Homo sapiens: one gene and its partners. The protein of the gene in region 4 interacts with the protein of the main gene of each other region in a pairwise test. Each region holds a gene or a part of one and is shown on either strand. Other genes may lie near its edges. The genes, in order: FCHSD2, TBC1D21, SH3GLB2, CCDC158 and SGF29.

The links.
Region 1: the proteins of CCDC158 (region 4) and FCHSD2 interact in a two-hybrid assay, tested with the Homo sapiens proteins (one large-scale study listed by BioGRID and IntAct).
Region 2: the proteins of CCDC158 (region 4) and TBC1D21 interact in a two-hybrid assay, tested with the Homo sapiens proteins (one large-scale study listed by BioGRID).
Region 3: the proteins of CCDC158 (region 4) and SH3GLB2 interact in a two-hybrid assay, tested with the Homo sapiens proteins (one large-scale study listed by BioGRID and IntAct).
Region 5: the proteins of CCDC158 (region 4) and SGF29 interact in a two-hybrid assay, tested with the Homo sapiens proteins (one large-scale study listed by BioGRID and IntAct).

The regions. Positions count from the first base shown.
Region 1 is NC_000011.10:72,887,312-72,890,831, reverse strand, and holds part of FCHSD2 (F-BAR and double SH3 domains protein 2), read left to right. Parts: intron 1-886; coding exon 887-1,003; intron 1,004-3,257; coding exon 3,258-3,362; intron 3,363-3,520. UniProt on the Homo sapiens protein: Adapter protein that plays a role in endocytosis via clathrin-coated pits. Contributes to the internalization of cell surface receptors, such as integrin ITGB1 and transferrin receptor.
Region 2 is NC_000015.10:73,883,557-73,886,651, reverse strand, and holds part of TBC1D21 (TBC1 domain family member 21), read right to left. Parts: intron 2,502-3,095; coding exon 2,407-2,501; intron 1,872-2,406; coding exon 1,761-1,871; intron 1,650-1,760; coding exon 1,549-1,649; intron 575-1,548; coding exon 478-574; intron 141-477; coding exon 40-140; intron 1-39. UniProt on the Homo sapiens protein: Acts as a GTPase-activating protein for Rab family protein(s). Essential for the establishment of male fertility, and is required for both the production of normal sperm number and sperm function.
Region 3 is NC_000009.12:129,014,832-129,018,351, reverse strand, and holds part of SH3GLB2 (endophilin-B2), read left to right. Parts: intron 1-2,492; exon of another isoform or gene 2,493-2,612; intron 2,613-3,447; coding exon 3,448-3,520.
Region 4 is NC_000004.12:76,414,622-76,418,141, reverse strand, and holds part of CCDC158 (coiled-coil domain-containing protein 158), read left to right. Parts: intron 1-3,520.
Region 5 is NC_000016.10:28,577,908-28,581,427, reverse strand, and holds part of SGF29 (SAGA-associated factor 29), read right to left. Parts: intron 374-3,520; 5' UTR 359-373; coding exon 284-358; intron 1-283. UniProt on the Homo sapiens protein: Chromatin reader component of some histone acetyltransferase (HAT) SAGA-type complexes like the TFTC-HAT, ATAC or STAGA complexes.

The DNA of each region.
Region 1 (3,520 bases), on a different chromosome or scaffold from region 4:
AGTTTTGTGTTTAATAGCTCTGATTCTGGAATCGGTCAATTAAGGTTGTAACATTTAACATCTAGGACATCCAGGAAAAATTAACCTCTCTGAGCCTCTGTTTTCTTTTCTATAAAATGATGTGGGACCCACATCATCAGGTTGTTAAAAAAAAAAAAAGTTATATGAAGCACTTTCCATAGTACCTTGCACAATAGAAGTTAGCTATTACTATTTTTATTTAGATTTTGTGGTTTGTTCTTTGTAAATCAGAATCATAGCATTTTAGAGCTAGAAGAAACCCTTGGTGATCATTTGATCTAGCACCCTTATCTTTCATATGAAGCCTGGAGAAAGAGCAAAAGCTGGCTTTTGAGGTTTGGTGGCAAGTTGATGGTGGACCTCTAAAGAGTTCCGTCTGCCTTGGGGCAGGGGGAGGGGTGCAAGATTGTGTTGCTGTTATTATATTGTTTTGTTCTTACTTCTCTTTAATGATTCTTTACTCACATTTAAACTATTAAGTTGTTTCCATTTTTATTTATGCAATGATTTTATCACCATAGTAGGTTGGCATGAATACATTTTCTTCTTTGCTTACCTTAGCTAGCTTCCTTCCCACTCGGAAAGATAAGTCCATCACACCCAAAAAGATAAGTCTGCAGTATTATAGATGATGCTTTTGTGTTCAGCAGTGTAAGACAAAAAGCTTATGGTCTTTAATGGTTTTATGCTGATCTTACTCTTCTGGTAACTTTCTGTGACGTTAAGACATTGCTTCCAGCAGTAGTGGAGCGTGCCTCATGTTTTGAGTGCTGATTAAGTGAAGGCCTTCTGATCCATCTACAAAGCAGTAGTGGTTACAATAAGGATAGCAATATTTTTATCTCTGTTCTCTCTTGTATTGTAGAGCCGACAGTTAGAATCAGAAACTGGGACCACAGAGGAGCACAGTCTAAATAAGGAAGCTCGAAAATGGGCCACACGTGTGGCACGTGAGCATAAAAACATTGTTCACCAACAACGGGTAAGTGTAAGAGAAAGTCCTAGTTACATTCACCTTAAGCCAAATGTCAAACAGTTTAAGGAACTGAGTTTTATTAATGTGAAAAATATCCTATATGTGTTGTTTTGTTTTATTTGAGACAAGAGGCTTGCTCTGTCACCCAGGTTGAAGGGCAGTGGTGTGAACATGGCTTACTGCAGCTTCAACCTCCTGGGCTGAAGCAGTTCTCCCACTTCAGCCTCCCAAGTAGCTGGGACCACAGGCACATGCCACTATGCCTGGCTAAATTTTTTTAGATTTTTTGTAGAGATAGGGTCTTGCCATGTTTCCCAGGCTGGTCTCAAACTCCTTTGCTCAAGCATTATATGTGTTTTTTCTGTACTTTCTCAACACTCAGCAGTGTGCTGTCAGCTATCTACTCATGTTGGAATTTCCTTAAGCCCTCCATCAGCAATACATTAATTTACCTGTTTACCATAAAATTAACAAAGAAAATTGTGATAGTGTATTATGGGCAGGGGAAGAGACATATGTTGAATTAATATAAGTTTTCATCCCTCAAGACATATTTTTTAAAAGACATAATTATAGCCGGGCGCGGTGGCTCACGCCTGTAATCCCAGCACTTTGGGAGGCCGAGGTGGGTGGATCACAAGGTCAGGAGATCGAGACCATCCTGGCTAACATGTGTTACGGTGAAACCCCATCTCTACTAAAAATACAAAAAATTAGCCGAGTGTGGTGGCGGGCACCTGTAGTCCCAGCTACTCGGGAGGTTGAGGCAGGAGAATGGCATGAACCTGGGAGGCGGAGCTTGCAGTGAGCTGAGATCACGCCACTGCACTCCAACCTGGGCGACAGCGAGACTCTGTCTCAATAAAAAGAAAAAAGAAAGACACAATTATAGATTTCATGAAAATATATGTTTGGCTGGGCGCAGTGGCTCACGCCTGTAATCCCAGAACTTTGGGAGGCTGAGGCAAGTGGATTGCTTGAACCAGGAGTTTGAGACCAGCCTGAGCAACATGGCAAAAAACCCGGTGTCTACAAAAAATTCAAAAATTAGTCGGGCATGGGGGCGCACACCTATCTTCCCACCTATTCGGGAGGCTAAGGTTGGGGAGAATTGCTTGAGCCCGGGAGGTGGAGGTTACATTGAGGTAAGATCATGCCTCTGAACTCCAGACTGGGTGACAGAGAAAGACCCTGTCTCCAAAAAAAAAAAAGAAAGAAAGAAAGAAAGAAAATATATCTCGAAGACTAAACTCTAAGCACAAAGAAATTATTTGGAGTATAGTACTTTTTTTCTGTTTCATTTATTGATACCTATATCCGTCTCATTCTTTGCCTTCACATCCTGCTTCTTAAAAGAATTGCCTATGCTTATTATCTATAGAATCTCACCTCCCACTTACTTTTTAGCCCATTACATTTGAGCTTTCCTGTCCTTTCCTTCCCCTGTCTAAGCTTACCAAAATCGCCAATGATGTCTGTGTTGCTAGCTTCCAAGTGGACACTTTGATTTCTCATTTTTCTTAATCTGTCAACAATTTCATCACAATTAACAATTCCATGTCTTAAAATGTTATCTTCTCTAGTCATCCACGATTCAACATTGTCCTGGCTTTCCTTCTGCCTTTCTGGCCATACCTAGATTTTTTCATGGGTTCCTCTTTCTCCATCCCACAATGAAATATTCAGTTTCTCAGATTCCTATACTTGGCTATCTTGTTTTCTTATTCTTTACCCTCATATAGGCATTCTCAGTCACTTCCATGGTTTTACTTTACCACCAAATCATAAATTAACATCTTCAACATTGGGCCTTGCTACTACTGTGTATCCATATAATCTCTTGCCTGTTTTGACATCTTCTTTTCACTATCTCACAGGTGTCTCAAATTCAGTGTTCCACTTATGTAATGTTGCTTAACAAACCACCTCAAACTTAATGCCATAGAACAAGAGGGTTTTTACATTATCTCTCACTAATCTGAGTATTGGATGGTCTCAGCTTAGCAGTTTCCCTTGGGGTCTCTCATGTGGCGGCAATCAGATAGTGGCTGGTCCTGGCTTCCCCACTGAAGGGACTGTCTGTAGTAAGTTTGTTACTAGTAAGTCTATAATTATTTCAAAATGTTCAAAAAATAAATAAATGAAAAAAAATTATGGCTACTAGTCACTAAAGCCCTTTGAATTATGTAAATACTTTAATCACTTAAGGAAGATGAAAAGTAAAAAACAGTCATCATTATTGTCCCATTTTCTTTAATAGGTTCTAAATGATCTGGAGTGTCATGGAGCTGCTGTATCAGAACAAAGCCGAGCAGAGCTAGAACAGAAAATAGATGAAGCTAGAGAAAATATTCGTAAAGCAGAGGTAAGGTGGCAGCTAATTGTGGCATTTTGCCCAGGTCTAATGACACTGTCACAGCTGTGATATACATCTTTAAAACTGAGTTTCTACACACACTGAGATGAAGGTGATTCACCGTCTTCATTCGTGTCCACAGTAGTATTTGTTGAGTACCTGCTCTG
Region 2 (3,095 bases), on a different chromosome or scaffold from region 4:
GTGGAGCCCAGCCTGATGATCCCTAGCTGGACACCTCACCTCCCAGAGCCTCCAGACATCATCGAAGGACTTGAAGGCACGCTGGAAGCAGAAGCAGAACCAGGGGAAGAGGGACTGCACAGCCCCTGCACCCTTCCCTTCTGTGGGGAGAGAAGGTGAGGCTGTGGTCAGGGGAAAACACATATGATGCAGCAAACACATGCAGATGAGGCCAAACTACAGAGCCTGCAAAACACTTGGGAAATACAAAAAGCCTGCCGCCCCTTTTCCAGCTGCCCTGGGAGATGGTTTAGAGTCAACTTTCAACTGTCCAGGCTCCAACCCCATCCAGATAACCCTCTTCCCAGGGCCTGGAGAAGCAATCAAATGATTCTGCTGCTCTCCAGCCCCCCCATGATTAGGGACTGACAGTTGGGTCCCAGCCCCCTTCCCATGCCTGGGGGGTGCGTGAGGTGGCAGGAGGTGGGAACCACTCACTTAGGTGCTCAGCAAACACGGGGTCCAGGAAGGTGATCAGGGTGCTGAGCATGTCTAGGTTCTTGGCCACGCCAATGTTGATGACACAGCTGTGTTCCTGCACACGATGGTGGGAGACAGACTGAGTCCCCCTTGGCTTCAAGGCACCGGAAGAGTCAACTCTGCTTCCCCCAGCTTCACTTCTGGAGGCTCTGTGTGTCTGTCTGTGCGCTGGGCCCATGTCTCTATGAGTCTGAGTGTGTGTGTGTGAGTGTGTGCATACATATCTATGTGACTGTGATCTGTGTATGCAAGTTTGTCTGTATATGTTGTACGCCTCTGGGTGGCTGTGTAGTGTGTGTGTGTGTGTGTGTGTGTGTATGTGTGTGTAGTAGAGATTCTCAACTGTGGCTCACAGTCTAGTGAGCCCAGTTGCCCAGTTCTTCCCTCACACAATAGTGTTGGGGCAGAGCCAACTGGGACAAGGGAAGGGCAGCAAGCACATGTGCAGGGATGGTGGGGTGGAGGGAGGGATGAGGGAGGGTTCTGGGCAGCCTCTCGCAGATCATGAGGAAAGGCTTTCCAGGGAGGTGTTCCAGGGAGCTGCACCTTCAAAACCCCTCAACTTGGACAGTGAGGGAGCCCCTGGGGACTATTGAGTCCCCTGGTGTGCCTGGAATTCAGGTTATGTGAAGGGAACAGCCCTGAATGACTGGCTAAGGTTATTGGATTTTATTCTGGAGGCCACAGGGAGCCATTGAGGAAGAAGCAGCGAGGAGGGAGGAGAACCGTGCTTGGGGAAGAAAATGCCAGGAGAGGGCACCTTCCCTGGGCCTGGCCAGCCATGCTCTTTCAAGGTTTGTTGAGAGGTGGACCCAGAGCTTTGCTCCATCCCCCTTCTCCACTTCAGTGCCTCCCCACCACCACTACTTTGAACCACTGGGTTTAGCGTCACCCTCCCAGGCTCCTCTGAGACCCAGAAGCCTGGAAGGAATGGCTGGGGTGGCCAATGCCTGCCCATCCTCAAAGAGTTGTTTGGGGAGTAGTGGGGGGTTGGGGAGGGGCGTCCCTGAGCTCAGGCCTTGCCCTCACCGTTTTCTGCAGGAAGAACTGGAAAAGCCAGAAGGTCTCGTGGTCGTGCTCCACCATCAGCTGGAAGAGCATCATCATCTCATGGAAGCCCTGCTGGTACTCTGTGGCGAAGAGGGGGTTGGGGAGGAGGGGCTGGGTGGGAGAGCCTGGACCCTTGGCTTAGGTTGGGCCAGGTCCTGGGAGGGCATTGACAAGGGGAGGCTGAGGCTCACCTGCCTGCGTGTTGCAGACGTAACTCAGGAGCAGGATCTTCTCTAGCCTCTTCTTGTCGATGAGGACGTTGCCCAGGGGATCTTTGTCATAGATTTTCTGAATGTCACGTGCTAGGTTGGAAGCAAGGGGCAAGTAGGTGGCACCAGATCACATCCAGCAGGTCTATGGGTGAATTTCTTCCCCTACCCCAATGGGCAGGCCCTAGGACATCCTGGAGGGAGAGGGAGCTGTGAAAGGTACATCAGCCCCTGCCAGGCTCAGTTCCTCACCACACCTTGAGCTGTCTGTGTTTCTTCCCACCTCCAACCCTCTAACGAGGCCGTACCCTCGGCCAGGAATGTCCTCCCCCACCCTTCCTCTCTGTCCAGTTCAAATCCAACCTCATTCAAAGCCAAAGAAAGGAGAGAGGAAGACCAGGCAGCAGGAACATCATGCACCCAGGAAAACATGGTATGGGGCATCTAGGGCCACCCAGGAGAGACTGGTGGGGTGGATTAACCAAGGTTCAGCTGGCGAAACTCCAGGCACAAGTCAAAGCAACTCCCAGGATCCTGGAGCCATCCCTCCCTGGAAGTGGCTGAGAAGGGGGCAGGGTTGGCTTCAAGCCCTCCCTCTGCCCAGCCCTCTCCACCCCACTTTGCTCACCAATGTTATTGCGAGTCTCTGTGAAGTTCCGGTGCAGGTTTTCCAGAAGGGGCTGAATCTTCTCATACATTTGGCATAAGGCCTTGTAGTTCTTCCTGTGAGAACAGAACTGAGGCTGAACAAGGTGGCTTTTCCCCTTCTGATAAGTGGTGAATGAGCAGCTGCAGCTACCAGGCCCCAGGCAGATCCAGGGCAGCACCCTCACCCAGCCATGCACCCTACCTGTGATGCTGTCCCTCATCTCAACCTGTGCCACCCTAACTGTCCTCCAACATGCACCTGGACTGCAGAACAGAGACAGTTTAACTTCTTGGGCTCTGTACTCCAAACGCTGCACCTGAATCCTGGCTCTACATCTTAATAACGGGGTGTCTGCCACTGGGGGCAAGTCTTGGGGACACGACTTTCCATCTCTAAGCCTCAGTTTCCCCATCTGTAGAATGGGCATAATACTGGCACCTGTGCCTCAGAATTGGAAGTGCTGAGTGAGGCGGTGTTTTGTCCTCATTATTAGAATATGATTAGTTGGTATTGCTGGCCGCATGGTGGCCTCCAAAAAGACATATCCATGTCCTAACCCCTAGGACCTGTGAATGTAACCATGTGGGGGAAAAGAGTCTTTGTAGATGTGACTAAGTCAAGGATCTCCGGACGAGATCCGTAAGACTTTCCAGGTGGACCCCAAATCC
Region 3 (3,520 bases), on a different chromosome or scaffold from region 4:
CCCGCCTTGGCCTCCCAAAGTGCTGGGATTACAGGCGTGAGCCACTGCGCCCAGCCAATTTAATTTAACTTTTTAAGAAGTTGCCAAACTGTTTTCCAAAGTAGCTGTATGATTTTTTTATTCCTGTCAGTAGTGTGTTGTTTCATTTTCAGATATTTGTGGATTTTCTGGGTTTTCTTCTATTGTTGCTTTTAACTTAATTCCACTGCGATCAGAGAATGTATGAACATGTCGTGCTATGTTAGTATTATTATTATTTTGAGATGGAGTCTCGCTCTGTCGCCCAGGCTGGAGTGCAATGGTGCCATCTGGGCTCACTGCAAGCTCCACTTCCCAGGTTCAAGGGATCCTCCACCTCAGCCTCTCAGCCTTCTGAGTAGCTGAGATTACAGGCACGCACCATCACGCACCTATAATCACACCCAGCTAATTTTTTTTTTTTTTTTTTTTGTTTGAGACGGAATCTCGCTCTGTCGCCCAGGCTGGAGTGCAGTGGCACGATCTCGGCTCACTGCAACCTCCGCCTCTCGTGTTCATGCCATTCTCCTGCCTCAGCCTCCCAAGTAGCTGGGACTACAGGCACCTGCCACCATGCCAGGCTAATTTTTTTTTTTTTCAGTGGAGACGGGATTTCACCGTGTTAGCCAGGATAGTCGATCTCCTGACCTCGTGATCCACCCACCTTGGCCTCCCAGAGTGCTGGGATTACAGGTGTGAGCCATCACACCCGGCGTATTTTTTGTATTTTTAATAGAGATGGGGGTCTCACCATGTTGGCCAGGCTGGTCTCAAACTCCTGATCTCAAGTGATCCGCCTGCCTTAGCCTCCCAAAGTGCTGGGATTACAGGCATGAGCCAGCACACCCAGCCTCATATTTTTATTGTTTTAATCCTTTTAAATTTATTGAGACTTGTTTCATGACCTAGTATATGGTCTATCTGGGGAATGTCCTAGGTTCACTTGAGAAGATGTGATATTATGCTGTTGAGGGTGCAGTGCTGTATAGGTGTCAGCGAGGCCACATCGGTTAATAGTGTTCAAGGCTTGTATGTCCTTGCTGATTTTGTCTTGTCCTATTCATTATCAAGAGTAGACTATTGAGGCTGGGCATGGTGGCTCACACCTGTAATCCCGCCACTTTGGGAGGTCAAAGTGGTTGGATCACCTGAGGTCAGGAGTTCAAGACCAGCCTGGCCAACATGGTGAAATCCTGTCTCTACTAAAAATACAAAAAAATTAGCTGGGCATGCTGGTGCGCGCCTATAGTCCCAGCTACTTGGGAGGCTGAGGCAGGAGAATTGCTGGAACCCGGGAGGCGTAGGTTGCAGCGAGCCAAGAGCGCGCCACTGCACTCCAGCCTGGGAGACAGAGTGAGACCAAAAAAAAAAAAAAAAAAAAAGAGCAGAGTATTCAAGTTTCCAACTATTACTGTTGAATTATCTTATTTCTCTCTTTGTCAGTGTTTGCCTTATGTATTTTGGAACTGTCTTAGGTCTGTATGTTTATATTTGTGCATCTTCCTGATGAATTGACTCTTTCATTATAAAATACTATTCTTTGTCTCTAGTACTATTTTGTGTTAAAGTCTATTTTGTCTGGTAGTAGTATAGCCACGTTAACTCTCTCGTGGTTACTGCATACATGGTGTACTTTTTTCAGCCCATTCATGTCTTTAAATTTAAAGTGTATCTTTGGATTTTTTTTTTTTTCTGTCACCCAGGCGGGAGTGCAGTGGTGCGATCTTGGTTCACTGCGACCTCCACCTCCCGGTTTCAAGCGATTATCCTACCTCAGCCTCCTGAGTAGCTGGGATTACAGGTGCTTGCCACCACGCCTGGCTAATTTTTGTATTTTTAGTAGAGACAGGTTTCACCAAGTTGGTTAGGCTGGTCTTGAACTCCTGACCTCATGATCCGCCTGCCTCAGCCTTCCAAAGTGCTGGGATTACAGGTGTGAGCCACCGCACCCGGCCGTATCTTTTTTTTTTTTTTTTTTTTTTTTTTTTTTTAAAGACAGTCTTGCTCTTGTTGCCCAGGCTGGAGTACAGTGGTGTGACGTTGGCTCACTGCAACCTCTGCCTCCTGGGTTCAAGCAATTCTCCTGCCTCAGTCTCCCAAGTAGCTGGAATTACAGATGCACACCACCACACCCAGCTAATTTTTGTATTTTTAGTAGAGACGAGGTTTTGCCATGTTGTCCAGGTTGGTCTCGAACTCCTGACCTCAAGTGACCCACCCACTTTAGCCTCCCAAAGTGCTAGAATTACAGGCGTGAGCCACTGCGCCCGGCCTTGCCTTCACTTTTGAAGGATTGTTTTGCTATATATAGAATTCCTGGATGAACAATTTTTTCTTTACTTTGAATATATTATCTTACTGCTGTCTGGCTTCTATTGTTTCTAATGAGAAGACAATTCATCTTATTTTAGCTCTCTTGTATGTGATGAATCAAACCATGTTTTTTCTTTTCTTTTCTTTTTTTTAAAGACAGGATCTTGCTGTGTCACCCAGACTGGAGTGCAGTGGTGCAATCATAGCTTACTACTATAGCCTCAAACTCCTGGGTTCAAATGATCCTTCCGCCTGGGCCTCCCAGAGTATTGGGATTACAGGTGTGAGCCAGCGCGCCCAGCCTCTTATTGTTTCTTCACATATTTTTTCTGCCTTATTTTCTCCTCCTCTTCTGGGACTCTTGTTAGTCATATGTTGGTTCACTTGACAGTGCCCCGTAGGTGCTGAGGCGCTGCTCATTTTTCTTATGATTTTCTATTTATTTTTTATAAAGACAAGGTTTTGCCATGTTGCCCGGGCTGGTCTTGAACAGCTGGGTTCAAGCAGTCTGCCCACCTTGGTTTTCCAAAGTGCTGAGATTACAGGTGTGAGCCACAGCATCCAGCCCAGTAGTTTTTCTTGATTAAATGCTTTTCAATTTGTTTTTTGCCTTGGTCAATTTGCAGAGTCCAGAAATGGATGTTTTTGACAATTGTGTCCAGTTTTCTTTCAATTTGTTTTATTTTCAAAGAGATAAGGTCTCCCTATGTTGCCCAGGGTGGTCTGGAACTGCCGAGCTCAAGTGATCCTCCCGTCTCGGCCTCCCAGAGTGCTAGGATTATAGGTGTGAGCCACCGCACCTGGCGTGGTGTCCAGTTTTATTGTTACTTTTTTTGGGAGGGGATTTGTTGAGCTCCTTTCTCTGACATTCTGGAAGTCTAACCCCGATCTTTATAATGGCTGCATTGTGTTCCATATTTTGGCTGTCCCATTGTTTATTTGTTAGTTCCCAGTTGATGGTGTAGTGTAGGTTGCTTCTGCTTTTTCCCAGGCAAAGCATTCTGCACTGAGCACCCCGGCCCTTGCTCTTCAGCAAGCTCTTCCTGAGCCCTCTCCTGTAGATCAGAGTAGCCTGAGCCTGACCTTCTTCCTCACGCTTCAACTCTGTTTTCTCAGGGAAGACACTGATCAAGGTGGCAGAAGCTGAAAAGCAACTGGGAGCCGCGGAGAGGGATTTTATCCACACGGC
Region 4 (3,520 bases):
TGGAGGATCATATGCCCTTGATTAAAATCCTCCAGTGCTTTGCGTTGCGTTTAGAATAAGCCCCAAAGTCTTCAGTATGTGGCCTTTTCAAGGCCCCATGAGCTTTACCTCCGCCAACCTCACTGACATCTTCTCAGGATAGTGTAGGAAAGGAAGTGATAAGCACAGTGTTCCTTTTGGCATGACACATAGTTGGCCTCCATTAGAAGCCCTCTCATCCCCACTTAGCTACCCTGCAGCCTCATTAGCCTTCTTCACTGGGAGTCAGTGAACACTGAGCTCTTCTCATTTTTGGGCCTTTGTGATGGCATTTCTTTTAAGAAGTTATCCCTGGCCACTGTGAGGCTGACCCCTTTCTGTCATTCAGTTCAATGCCACCTCCTTAGGAAGGCCTTCCCTCACCTACCCTAACTAGAGGAGCTGTGTTAGTCTGTTTTCATGCTGCTAAGACATACCCGAGAGTGGGAAGAAAAAGAGGTTTAATTGGACTTACAGTTCCACATGGCTGGGAAGGCCTCAGAATCATGGTGGGAGGCAAAAGGCACTTCTTACATGGCGGCAGCAAGAGAAAATTACCTCCCCCTGGGTCGCTCCCATGACACATGGGAATTCTGGGATATACAGTTCAAGTTGAGATTTGGGTGGGGACACAGGCAAACCATATCATTCCACCTGTGGCCCCTCCAAATCTCATGTCCTTACATTTCAAAACCAATCATGCCTTACCAGTAGTCCCCCAAAGTCTTAACTCATTTCAGCATTAATGCAAAAGTCTTCAGTCCAAAGTCTCATCTGAGACGAGCCAAGTCCCTTCTGGCTATGAGCCTGTAAAATCAAAAACAAGCTAGTTACTTCCTAGATACAATGAGGGTACAGGTATTGGGTACATATAGCCATTCTAAATAGGAGAAATTGGCCAAAACAAAGGAGTTACAGGGCCCATGCAAATCCAAAATCCAGCAGGGCAGTCAAATTTTAAAGCTACAAAATGATCTCCTTTGACTCCATGTCTCACATCAAGGTCACGCTGATGCGAGAGATGGGTTCCCATGGTCTTGGGCAGCTCCAACCCCTGTGGCTTTGCAGGGTACAGCCTCTCTCCCAGATGCTTTCATGGGCTGGTGTTGAGTGTCTGCAGCTTTTCAGGTGCACAGTGCAAGGTGTTGGTGGATCTACCATTCTGGGGTCTGGAGGATGGTGGCCCTCTTCTTAACAACTCCATTAGGCAGTGCCCAGTAGGGACTCTGTGTGGGGGTTCCAACCCCACATTTCCCTTCAGCACTGAGCTAGCAGAGGTTCTCCATAACGGTCCCATCCCTACAGCAAACTTTTGCCTGGGCATCCAGGCGTTTCCATACATCTGACATCTAGGCAGAGGTTCCCAAACCTCAATTCTTGAGGCCTGTGCACCTTCAGGCTTAACACCACATGGAAGCTGCCAAGGCTTGGAGTTTCCAGTCTCTGAAGCCACAGCCTGAGCTGCACATTGGCCCCTTTCAGCCATGACTGGAGCAGCTGGGACACAGGGCACGAAGTCCCTAGGCTGCACACAGCACAGGGACCCTGGGCTCAGCCCACAAAACCACTTTTTTCTCCTGGGCCTCTGGGCCTGTGTTGGGGTGGGCTGCCATGAAGGTCTCTGACATGGCCTGGAGACATTTTCCCATGGTCTTGGGGATTAACATTAGACTCTGTAGAGTCCAGCCCCACAGGGTCAGTGGGTTTTCTCCCCGTGTGCGGAGATGAGAGAGTGTAGAAATAAAGAGACAAGACAAAGAGATAAAAGACAGCTGGGCCTGGGGGACCACTACAACCAAGACGCGGAGACCGGTAGTGGCCCCAAATGCCAGGCTGTGCTGATATTTATTGGATACAAGAAAAGGGGCAGGGTAAGGAGTGTGAGCCATCTCCAATGATAGGTAAGGTCACATGGGTCCCATGTCCACTGGACAGGGGGCCGTTCCCTGCCTGGCAGCTGAGGCAGAGAGAGAGAGGAGAGAGAGAGAGACAGCTTACACCATTATTTCTGCTTATCAGAGACTTCTAGTACTTTCACTAATTTGCTACTGCTATCTAAAAGGCAGAGCCAGGTGAACAGGATGGAAGATGAAGGCGGACTAGGAGCATGACCACTGAAGGACAGCATCACAGGGAGACGGTTAGGCCTCTGGATAACTGCAGGCGGGCCTGTCAGGCCCTCCACAAGAGGTGGAGGAGTAGAGTCTTCTCTAAACTCCCCCGGGGAAATTGAGACTCCCTTTCCCGGTCTGCTAAGTAGCGGGTATTTTTCCTTGACACTGACGCTACCACTAGACCACAGTCCACTTGAAAATGGGCGTCTTCCCAGACACTGGCATTACCGTTAGACCAAGGAGCCCTTTGGTGGCCCTGTCCGGGCATAACAGAAGGCTTGCACTCATCTTCTGGTCACTTCTCACTATGTCCCCTCAGCTCCTATCTCTGTATGGCCTGGTTTTTCCTAGGTTATGATTGTAGAGTGAGGATTATTATAATATTGGAATAAAGAATAATTGCTACAAGCTAATGATTAATGATATTCATATATAATCATATCTAAGATCTATATCTAGTATAACTATTCTTATTATTTTGTATATTTTATTATACTGGAACAGCTCATGCCCTCGGTCTCTTGCCTCGGCACCTGGATGGCTTGCCGCCCACAGACTCCTTGCTACTTATGCAAATTTCTGCAGCCGGCTTGAATTTCTCCCCAGAAAATGGATTTTCCTTTTCTATCACATAGTCAGGCTGCAAATTTTCCAAACTTTTATGCTCTGCTTCCCTTATAAAACTGAATGGCTTTAACAGTACCCGGGTCACCTCTCTAATGGTTTGCTGCTTAGAAATTTATCCTGCCAGATACCCTAAATCATCTCTCTCAAGATCAAAGTTCCACAGATCTTTAGAGAAGGGGCAAAATGCTACCAGACTCTTTGCTAAAGCATAGCAAGAGTTTACTATGCTTAAAGTTCTTACATAGCAAGAACTTTACTCTAGTTCCCAACAAGTTCCTCATCTCCATCTGACCACCTCAGCCTGGACCTTATTGTCCATATTGTTATTGGCACCTTGGGCAAAGCCATTCAACAATTCTCTAGGAAGTTCACATTTTCCTGTCTTCATCTGAGCCCTCCAAACTGTTCCAACCTCTGCCTGTTACCCAGTTGCAAAGTCGCGTCCACATTTTCTGGTATCTTTTCAGCAATGCCCCACACTACTGGTACCAATTTACTGTATTAGTCTGTTTTCACGCTGCTGTTAAAGACATACTGAGAAGAAGAAAAAGAGGTTTAATTGGACTTACAGTTCCACACGGCTGGGGAGGTTTCAGAATCATGAAGGAGGCAAAAGGCACTTCTTACTTGGCAGCAGCAAGAGAAAATGAAGAAGCAAAAGCGGAAAACCCTTACAACCCCATCGGATCTCATAAAACTTATTCACTATCACAAGAATAGCACGGGAAAGACCGGCCTCCATGATTCAATTACCTCATCCT
Region 5 (3,520 bases), on a different chromosome or scaffold from region 4:
CTGCGAAAAACCACTGGATTATACACTTTAAATGGGTGCGTTGTATGGCATGTGAATTCTATCTCAGGATAGCTGTCAAACAAAATGAATCATGAAATCCTGTACATGGTAGAAAATCCAACAGGAATGGTAGCCATACACCAAATTCCCCTCCTTTCACTTTTATTACGTCATTTTGGTTCCTGCGAGTCCAATCTCTCTGAACACAAATGCCACCCCCACTTCACGGCTCAGCATCAAAGCCCATGTTCCCATCTGGGAATGGAGGGTGGTGACTTTTTACCTGGGTTTGTTTGATCAGCTGATGGAGCTCTGTGAGAAGTTCTGCAATGCGGGAATCGGCAGACACGAGGGCCATTGTCTACAGGGGCACCTGGTGGGGGAGCGAGGACAGAAGAGAACTCTGTTAGTGGCTGCTGTGGGCTGAACTGTGCCCCCTCAAAAGATACATTAGGCCTGGAGGCTCATGCTGTAATCCCAGCACTTTGGGAGGCCAAGGCGGGAGGATTGCTTGAGGCCAGGAGTTCAAGACCAGCCTGGGCAACACGGAGACCCCGTCTTTACAAAAAAATTAAAAACTTAGCCCGGCATAGTGGCACACATCTGTAGTCCCAGCTATTCGAGAAGCTAAGGTGAGTGGATCGCTAGGCCCTAGGGGGTTGAGGCTGCATGAGCTACGATCGTGCCATTGCACTCCAGCCTACATGACAGTGTGACACCCTATCCCTTTAAAAGATAGTAATAATAAAAAGATACATTGTAGTCCTAACCATGGTACCTGTAATGTCACCTTGTTTGGAATTAGGGTCTTTGGAGAAGTATTTAAGATGTCACTAAGATGAAGTCATAGTGGAATAGGGTGTGCCCTTAATCCAGACACACAGCCAGGTGCAGACAGAAGCAGCGACTGGACTTGGACAGCTGCAAGCCAGGGGATGCCAAGGACTGCCGGCAGCCACCCATCCAGCCGGGAGAGATGCGCGGAGTAACGGCCCCGTCTAAGCCTCCAAGAAGCAACAATCCCTTGTCTTTGGAACCAAGCTGACATCTTGATTTTGGAATTATGGCCCCTAGAACTGTGATGGAATAAATTTCTCTTGTCTTAAGCCACCCAGCTTGCAGTAACTTGTTATGGCAGCCATAAGAAATGAATACAGTGGCAAGCTATCCTTGGATTCTCCTCCACCCTATTGATATGTTTGAATGTCATATGTTCGACGAAGTCAAGGAGTCAAGGAGTGTATAATTTTTGTATATAAATACAAAAATTAATATGAAGTGCCTTAAAAAGATAGCATGCCCTTAGCCCCTGCTCTGCTGCCAATATCCTGACAAATGATTCAAACATTTCTGGTATCCATATTTTAATCTGTAAAATGGGGATCATCTCTGCTATATTTTGGGAGATTCAAATAAGATTTTATATGAAGACACTTTCCAAGTCATAAAACGCTGTTACTTTCTTACTATAGTGGGAAGATAATTTTTTTTTTTTTGAGACGGGAGTCTTGCCCTGTCACCTAGGCTGGAGTGCAGTGGTGTGATCTTGGCTCACTGCAATCTCTGCCTCCCAGGTTCAAGCAATTCTCCTGCCTCAGCCTCCTGAGTAGCTGAGATTACAGGTGTGTGCCACCATGTCCAGCTAATTTTTGTATTTTTAGTAGAGATGGGGTTTCACCATGTTGGCCAGGCTGGTCTCAAACTCCTGACCTCAGGTGATCTGCTTGCTTCAGTCTCCCACAGTGCTGGGATTACAGGCGTGAGCCACCACGCCCAGCCAGCATGGGGAGAGAAACTACTGTAAAATATCTCAATCAAGATGAATGTACTCTGATGAAAATAAAATGCTTCTGTACAATAAAAGATAATTAGGGCCGGGCGTGGTGGCTCATGCCTGTAATCCCAGCACTTTGGGAGGCCGAGGAGGGCAGATCATGAGGTCAAGAGATCAAGACCATCCTGGCCAACATGGTGAAACCTTGTCTCTACTAAAAATACAAAAATTAGCTGGGCATGGTGGTGGGCACCTGTAGTCCCAGCTACTCAGGAAGCTGAGGCAGGAGAATTGCTTGAACCCGGGAGATGGAGGTTGCAGTGCGCCGAGATCACGCCACTGCACTCCAGCCTGGCGACAGAGTGAGACTCCGTCTCAAAAAAAAAAAAAAAAAAAGATAATTAGAACAAGAGTAAAAAGACAACCAAAAGTAATCAAGAGTGTAAGTTACAAGTAGGTGAAAATAGACATATGCCTCAAGATAAAGGTATATTTGATAAAATAAGGGGATATTTTTTACAGTGCTAAAATTTTGCACAATAGCCTGCATCTTACAAAGTTTGTTCAAGCTGGGGGCAGTGACTAACACCTGTAATCCCAGCACTTTGGGAGGCGAAGGTAGGAGGATGGTTTGAGTCCAGGAGCTCGAGATCAGCCTGGACAATACAGCAAGACCCTGTCTCTATTTTTATTTTTTATTTATTTATTTTTTGAGATAGAGTCTTGCTCTGTCGCCCAGGCTAGAGTGCAGCGGTGCGATCTCTGCTCACTGCAACCTCGGCATCCTGGGTTCAAGCGATTCACCTGCCTCAGCCTCCAGAGTAGCTGGGATTACAGGCACCCGCCACCTTGCCTGGCTAATTTTTTGTATTTTTAGTAGAGACGGGGTTTCACCATCTTGGCCAGGCTGGTCTCAAACTCCTGACCTCGTGATCCACCCACCTCGCCCTCTTTTTTTTTTTTTTTTTTAAAGTTGTTCAACTAACACATCCTCCTACTCACAGAGATCAGATTCACGATGAATGGAGTAAACTCTTCCCCCCACTTAATCAACTGCGAACCTCTCGCCATGTATTTATTCATATCTTCTTACATGCTCTGCTGCTGCTATTTAAAAGTATAATAACATACAAACTAGGAATAGAGGGTAACCTCCTCAACCTGATGAAGGGCATCTATGAAAAACCCACAACGAACATCAGACTTAAAGGCGAAAGATTAAAAGCTTTCCCCTAAGTCAGGAACAAGATGAGCATGGGCCCTTGTCATTTCTAGTCAACATTGTTCTGGAGGCTCTCGCCAGGGCAATGAGGCAATAAGATGAAATAAAAGGCATCCACATTGGAAAGGAAGAAGTACAACTATTTCTATTTGCAGATGACATGACCTTGTATATAGAAAACCCTAAGGAATCCATTAAACAACTATTAGGACTAAGACAAGGTTAGAACTCATAGCAAAGTTGCAGGATACGAGATCAATAAACAAAACTCAATTGTGGCCAGGCCCCAGAGGCTCACGCCTGTAATCCCAGCACTTTGGGAGGCTGAGGCGGGAGGATCACTTGCAGCCAGGGGTCCAGACGAGCCTAGGCCACCAGACGAGCCTGAGCCCCACTTCTACTTTATAAATTTTTTAACTTTAAAAAAAGAAAGCTACAGTAATCAAGATGTTGTAAGCAAAGACATCTAGTTCAATGGAATAGAACTGAGAAACCAGAAATGGTCGACTAATTTTCAACAAGGG